Homo sapiens: one gene and its partner. The protein of the gene in region 2 interacts with the protein of the main gene of each other region in a biochemical or structural test. Each region holds a gene or a part of one and is shown on either strand. Other genes may lie near its edges.

The links.
Region 1: the proteins of WASF1 (region 2) and SORBS2 form a complex in vitro, tested with the Homo sapiens proteins (one study listed by BioGRID).

Annotation. Positions count from the first base shown.
Region 1 is NC_000004.12:185,584,924-185,588,747, forward strand, and holds the end of SORBS2 (sorbin and SH3 domain-containing protein 2), read right to left. Parts: intron 3,268-3,824; exon of another isoform or gene 3,002-3,267; intron 2,766-3,001; coding exon 2,704-2,765; 3' UTR 600-2,703; downstream 1-599. UniProt on the Homo sapiens protein: Adapter protein that plays a role in the assembling of signaling complexes, being a link between ABL kinases and actin cytoskeleton. Can form complex with ABL1 and CBL, thus promoting ubiquitination and degradation of ABL1.
Region 2 is NC_000006.12:110,172,918-110,176,741, forward strand, and holds part of WASF1 (actin-binding protein WASF1), read right to left. Parts: intron 1-3,824.

The DNA of each region.
Region 1 (3,824 bases), on a different chromosome or scaffold from region 2:
CGTGACAAGACATCTTTGATAACCGAGTTGGCAAAAGAGGAATGTCCGTATTTCTGAATATTTAAGAGATAGATATGGAAAAGGGTCAAAACACATAGAGCAAGAAGGGACTAAGGTATATGAGAAAAGATCCAAGCAGGCAAGCTGGCTCTTTCCCATTTGTGTGGCAGAAAGCGGGGACCCCACCGCCACCCATCATTTGAAATTCACTGAAAGCCTGTGGACATTTGCAGAAGCTGCCGAGCCAATGGTGCTGAAGCTGCTTAGGGCAAAGATTTTAAAATTTCAGAGTGTTGAACTGGGAAAGTGCTTACAACTCCTTGTAACTAACCCCTCCTTGGAAAACTAGCTGTTTTGAGGCAGAAATATTTTACAATGTATTGTTTTAACTGAAGGGCAATTTTTAGCCAAAGAACGTTTAGCAAATGAGCTTTGGTGGTGGGTTTAAAAATATTTCTTCTCTGAGCTGATGCTGACACAGCTTTTCTCCATGTTTGTGTTAAAAGAACACACAACAAAATGCATTTTCTCTTAGTTTAACAAGTTGGAATAAAATACACAATTTTTATAAAGATAAATGTCAAGAAGAAAAACTGAAGTATACTTCCAAGCAAAATTTATTAGATGTCTATTCAAGAAAAACACAATGACCTTTGCTTGTAAGAATTCAAAGTCAATTACCTGGAAGCCAGGTATGAATAGTTTTTTCTTTTAAAATCAGATACAGAGAGTAGAAACAGTAATTTTTCTTAAATATGACAGGCAACAGATATTGAAGTCTTTTCTCATAAATGGCATCAAAGAGAATTATTCATTTATCAGCAAAGCTGCATGCAGTTGACTTAATTTCAAACCTGAAGCCTTTAAAATATGAAGCTGGTTATGAACTTGACAGAAATCAAGGTAGGCTACTCAACGATGTTTCTTTACCTTCTTCCTAATGAAATTCCCTTGTCATCAGTCAGTAGATATGTACATTTCATTTGGCTTCTACGATCTTTTAACTTCATAGATTTTTGCATAAATGCTATCTGACAGAATCACACTATCTAGGGGTGCTTGTGATCTGTGAGATAAGGAGAGGCTAGTCTGCTGAAAGTGTTGTCGCAGGATAAAGACCAAATTAGGAAACGCCCCTGTTTTCTCAACAACTAGTCTGTACAAAAAAAGAGCAAACATATGTACAAAATTCTAGAGGCTACGTACATTGTGAAAAGATCAATATCACTGTCCATGAAAGAGATGCCATAAAAAGTTTTATCTGTAAGGTGCTCAAGATCCAAAGATGAACAGTTCTTATGCAAAGTCATAAGAAATACAAAGCTAGTTTTCGGAGCAGGTGTAATTCAGGCACTGTGAACCATATTAAACCTTCCAGGTCCCAATATCATTTTTTAAATTTCTGCTTCAGGGCAGAAAATAAAACCTGAATGATTTAACATTGCTTCTAAAAAGTGCCTAATTTATTCCTAGGAAATATTTTACACACACCAGGAAAATCAGGCTCAACATATTCCTGTCCTCAAATGTAGCCAGGATTCTGAGTTCCATAGAAGAAAAATAATTATTATAGTAAAAATAATTGTAGTAATCCTAATCCTTGCTAAAACCAACTTTAATACTTGTGATGCTTCTGTACTCTATTTCTATAAAATAATGTGTGAGATTCTATTACATTTCCATAAAATGTACAACATATCATATGGATTATATGTTCTCATACAATCTCAAATGTGTATGTGTACACACAGTGAAATCTTACCTACTAGTATTGCTTACAGATACTTTCAGGTGTCTGTTAGAATAATTCTTTGCACCTCTCACTAACACTGCTTTTACTTACATTTTTTCAGATAAATAAAACACTAAGAGCTCATTGTTCATGATGCTGATCATTACATTTTAATATAAAATAGCGATGCAACTTTACAACACAATAGTTTTCCCCTGTAGCCTAGCTCAGCCTCTTGTATTGTCATGATTATTACCGAAGGCTTTTATTTACTTACTGTTTGCACTTCTAAAAAATGCAAACAAATTGCAGAAAAAGACTCCTATTTGAAAACTCACATTCAATCAGCAAAATCACACTCATCCAAATTAACTCGCCTCCTCTTGCTTTAAAGGTTGTAATCACTGTGCATATTACAACATGTATGTGCAGGCAAACAATAGCTAAAGTACAGTTACAGTTGTCATATTGTGTAAACCAAGACACTAGGCAAACTTGTGAAAAGAATACACACTGCCAAGCGAAGAATATGAAAATGCAAACCACAGCATTCCCCAATAAACAATTTTCTGGTCGTCTTGGGGGAGAACATCGCCTGGGGGGAGATGTTGAAATGGAGCCACGAGGCTGGACAGCCTCCTGGAGACACTTTTTTTTTTTTTTTTTGCCTCAAATATTTGACCATTTTTAAATATCATGATTTTTTTCTTTCTGATCCCACATTTTGACGTGTCAAAGCTTAGAGCAGGAAGTAGGAATCCACACTTTCACGGAGGGGGACCAGCCTGCCATGTCGTCCCCAGGCTCACAGCAGCGGCGGCTACTCTGCTGGTGGTTTGGTGGCAGGTGGAGATGGTGACGGCGCATTGGAAACCGTAAGGCATGACAACGGGAGGCCCGCGGGGTGTTTCAGGCGCGTTGACGCAGGTGCATGGCTGGCAGGCGGCCTCTACAGAAGGAGGGAGCGCAATTCACAGCCTCTTGACGTAGTTTCCGGGGAAAGTACCAAAGAATTTGGTTCTTCTTGAGGTCCCTGAAAATAGAAGCGAGTCATGAAAGGGGGGTGACAACGATATCAGTTCATACACATGGGCTTGAATACTTCCCATTTACAAGGCCTCGGAAGACAGCAAGCCCCGAGGGGTTTGGAAAAGAAGGCAGGCAACTCACATGAAGCCCATAGGCAGACAAAATAAGCAGTGTTAGCTGGTTGCCTGACGCTCTCACTGCCCCTCCGGCATAAATGCTGCGCTGCCATCGCGGCAGGCTAAACAGAAATGCTGAGCCTCCCAAGCTAAAGGGAAAGTCAGCCCTGCTGAGGAGGGGGGCGGAGGAGCTCAGTCACTGAGGCTGCCACACCAGAGTCGGGGGTGAGGGATCAAGGCGAGGCTGACAGGTGACAGGGTGAGTGGAAAATCCTAAGAGCAAAGCTTCTCAGGGACCAGCAACCCGCGCAACACAGGTGCGACATGAAGACATCATCTGTGGCAGGCTGTCGCTGTTCCAACAGTTTTATCATCTTACAGAAGATCATGGTCAGTGCCACATCATTTATTTAAAAACAGCACTGCCAGAGTCCTTCATCGAGTATACAATTTTTCAACAATTTACAAATCATTAATGAAAAAAAGGATTAAGCACTATTTGTGTGTGGGAGTTCTATCAGTGGCATGATTTTTAACATGGTGTGTGTTTAACCACACGCACAAATGGCTATCATAATTATGTTCGCCTCTGGTTTCAAATAATGTAATTCCTTGGACACTTCTTGTAAAAGTTGGTGCACTAAATTGCTAAATTCTTCTTTAGGCAGCGCAGATGGACCGGATAAGGGTCTCTCAAGCTTCATCTGTCTCCTATATCCTGGCACTTACTGCCTTGGTTTGATGGCTGTTTTTCTTTTTCCTTGGCTAGGCAAGCCATTTTACGTTTCTCCTCCCTCCTCCTCCTCCCTCCTCCTCCTCCTCCTTGTTTTTGAGATGGAGTTTCGCTCTTGTCGCCCAGGCTGGAGTGCAGTGGCATGATCTCGGCTCACTGCAACCTCTGCCTCTTGGGTTCAAGCAATTCTCCTGCCTTAGCCTCCTGAGTGGCT
Region 2 (3,824 bases):
AAAAATAATTTTAAGAAGTGAGTGCTAGTCTTCATCCTCGACTAAAATATAAAATGCTTCACTGTTCCTCCCTTTTCGTTTAACCCTTTCACAATTCTCTGGCATAACCTGTAGCACATGCATGTTATAAAAATTTAGCAAATTTAACAAATTTAGCAAGATGTCCCTATTAAAACAACTAGAAAACAAACTTACTTTTGTAGCATAAGGTGAAAACATAACACACTTGACTTTTTTGGTAAAGGAATCAAACAAGTTATTCCATGCCCTGACACATAAGCTTTTCTTCTTTTCAAATAAGTTAGTCAATGTAACTTTATTGGAGTAGACCTGGCTAGGTTAGGAATAAAGAATGGCTACATGCTGGACTAACTACTATCAAGCACACCAAATTAAAAAAACAAAAAAACAAAAAAACTTTGCTGTCATCATCATCCAACAGATGTCATCACACCCAAAACCCACCTACTTAGAATTTCTTTAGGACCTTTAGTTTAAGAAATGGTACCTTTGCAGCATAAGGGAGTAGGAAAAAAATGGGACTTTGAAATCACACATATCTGTGCTCAAATTCCACCTCCATTTCTATTAGCCATGTGACCTTGAGCAAATTACTTGATCTATGAGAGGACTCAGTTTGCTGGTTGACAAGTACCACAAATACAATTCTAACAGTTTACGCAAAAAGGAGGACTTATGACAAAGGTAACTAGGATGTCTCTGGAACCCAATCTCAGGACCATGGACAAAGGAACTCAAATACAGTCAGGACTCTGTGCATCTGCTTCTTTGCACTCTTTGTTCTAGAAGCCCTGGCTTATCTAGCCCACAGGGCAAGAAACAAGGCCATTAACAGTTCCAGAGTTTTGTATCTCACAGCTTCAGCAACTGAAGAGAAAACAAATTATTCAACCTCTGGGCATGGAGGACCCAGGAAAAGTTCTGAGTGACTTGGCTTAGTAAAAAAGTGTCTAAAACCAGGCCAATAAACCACAGAAATGAACAGAATTGTGATTGGTATCTCTGGCCCCTTCCAAGCCAAAGTGATCTTTACAAAAGACAGATCTGATCCAGTAATTAACCCGATTAAAACTCTTCATGGCCTTCCCCAATAGACTTAAAATCCTTAACCTCGTTAAACCAAACCTCACGTAGGCCCTCTGCATAGTCTGGCTTCTGTTTACCTCTGCAACCTCATATCAAGTCACAATCCCTCTTACACTAAGCTTTAACTGTTTCACCTGTTCTTTGAATTCTCTTCCTTTTCCACCTAGCTAACTTCCACTAATCTTGCCTCTAAGAAGCCTCCCCTGACTCCCAGTGTAAATCCAGTTCCCTCTTCTTTTCCTTTACAGCATTCACCAAAATTTCTAAGTACAAATGTATTTGTTCAACACCTGTTTTTTACTATACTGTTAACTCCAAGAGAATAGAGACCTGTCCTTTTTAGCACCTACTTGGCCCTCAATAATTATGTGCTGATTATGAACTATGAATCACTGGTTTAACAAGGGGGACCCACTAAATGAACCAATTACAAATGAGGGGACAGTAGCAGGCAGGCAGAATTGTTATTATCAAGTTATTAAAATGACTGCTCCAACAGAAACTTATCAGTAAAAGGGGAGATAAAGCAGTTCTGAAACAATCTGGGCTTCCGCTAGGCAGAACAAACAACTTGTTCAATTCAGTTAACCTTTTTCTTCAATTAAATCCTTATAGGGCTATGATAGCAATTAAACAAGATAAATAATAAATGTGACAGCATCTATACAGAATCTTGTACATCTAGCAAGCAAGCAATGTCACTTCTTTTCCTTTTGGACCATGTTACACATTATTTTTGAATATCACTGATCTCCAAATAATTATTAAATACTCCAATGCATATGACAAAAATAGCTGTTTCATGACCTCTTCCCTCACAGCACCCTGATCTTTCCACATGGAACAGAATGACTTCTCTTTTATTCTGTAGTAATTGCATACACTCAAAATCCATTTAGCTTAAACCAAAAACAGGCACTGGGAACACAAAAATGAAGCAAAGCAAAACAAAACAACCAAACGCTTACAACAAAACTGTCCTCAAGGAGTTCACAGATTCACTTTCTCAATCTGCCTTCAGCTCCATCACATCCATACCAAAGCTCCATAGCACCCCAGGTAAGGCTGCTACAAATACAAGATGCCCCGTATTTTATGGGGCAATAATCCATCTTTATATCTTCATACTCCCACTTCATGACCTCATTCCAAAATTTTTTCCTTAAAAAAATTCTATGGAGACTGACTGGATATGATCTTTCTTCAAAGTATGAATAAAATCTACCCTGACTTTACCAATAGCTCAAAATAAGGAAACAAAGGAAACAATCCAAAAGAAAAATCCTGTTTCTTGACAGTGCTGGGAGTTTATTTTTAAAAATTAAAACAAACAAAAAACCCATCACAAAAATAACGCCTTTAAGAGACTAAAAAATCTTGCTTCTGAGAACAGGCACGTGTGAAAGGATCAAGACTACTTTCTTTTTCAGAGGTAGGTCCAGAAAGAAGAAATGTCCTCATAAGAGGGACGTAAGCGGTAACTTTAGGGAAAATGAACTCTCAGGAAAAAAAGGGGGTTACACCAAGCTTCGAAGTATCTTAGAATTTTATTTGTAGCTAAAACAGATCTCCGAAGTCATCTACTTCTACCTTTTCATTTTATAATCAAACATCTTGAGAAGTAAAGTCACGCAGAAGACTGCATTTCCTTCTAATTTTTGTCATGCCCTAACTTCTTGTCCCAGATAATGTAAGCCTATGCCACTCACTGAACTGAGAAACAGCCTCCTCTTCAAGTCCACTGGGTGAAAGAGAACAAGTTCCTAATAATGTTGTCATGTCTAACACAAGAGTTACAGATCCTAGCATTTCAGGGTACATCTGAAACTTATTTTTCCCATAGAAAGACTGTCATACAAATTATTATAGGTATTTTAATATACTTATGCTAATTATTAACATAATTTTATAATTTCTTTAGTATTAACATAATCCTATAATTCAGGTATTTTATTATTTAAATAGGCTTTAGTGGGCTGTCTGTGACTCTAACCACTAAGTATACTGTTTCTGAGAAAATAAGACTCAAGTTCCAAACCATTTTACAAGTTGTAAAATGTAATCAATTGTGTAGTAAGTTAGAACTACCAATTCACAAAGACTCAAAATTATAAGCTGAATGTGATAAACTTAAAACACAAGATTCTTAATTTTATAAAAAGTTCCACTTCAGGGGTCATTTATTTTTAACAACTAGGTACTCAAGCATTCAGCATAGGATTTAATTTACATATATCTTTTTTATTACTATTTCACTAGAAAACGTAAGTCACAAAGAATCAAACACACTTCTATCTAGTGTAGGAAAAACAAAAAATATGTTAACATACATCTTCATAAAGTGAGCTATAAGAAGAAAATTGTTAATATTTCATAAATCAAAGACTACTAACATATACATTATTAAGTATCTAGTGCCAGTTCAAAAGTGTACAGGTAATGGAATTATATCTGAGCAGGTAAATGGAGTTCAAAGAACCTTGAAATTCATTTTTCTCTTTTCTCCTGAGATAAAGTTATACATTTCATTAATTATAATGTTTGATAAATCTTTAAAAATGTTTCACTAAATATATTAATTCAATGGATATTCTTTACCCATTCATTTTATTTGTTCAACAAAGAAAATTGAGCCCCTGCTATTTGTTAAACACTATACTAACAACTTTGGATTTATGACAATAAGCTGCAGGTCAGTTTCTCTCCTCAAAGAACTA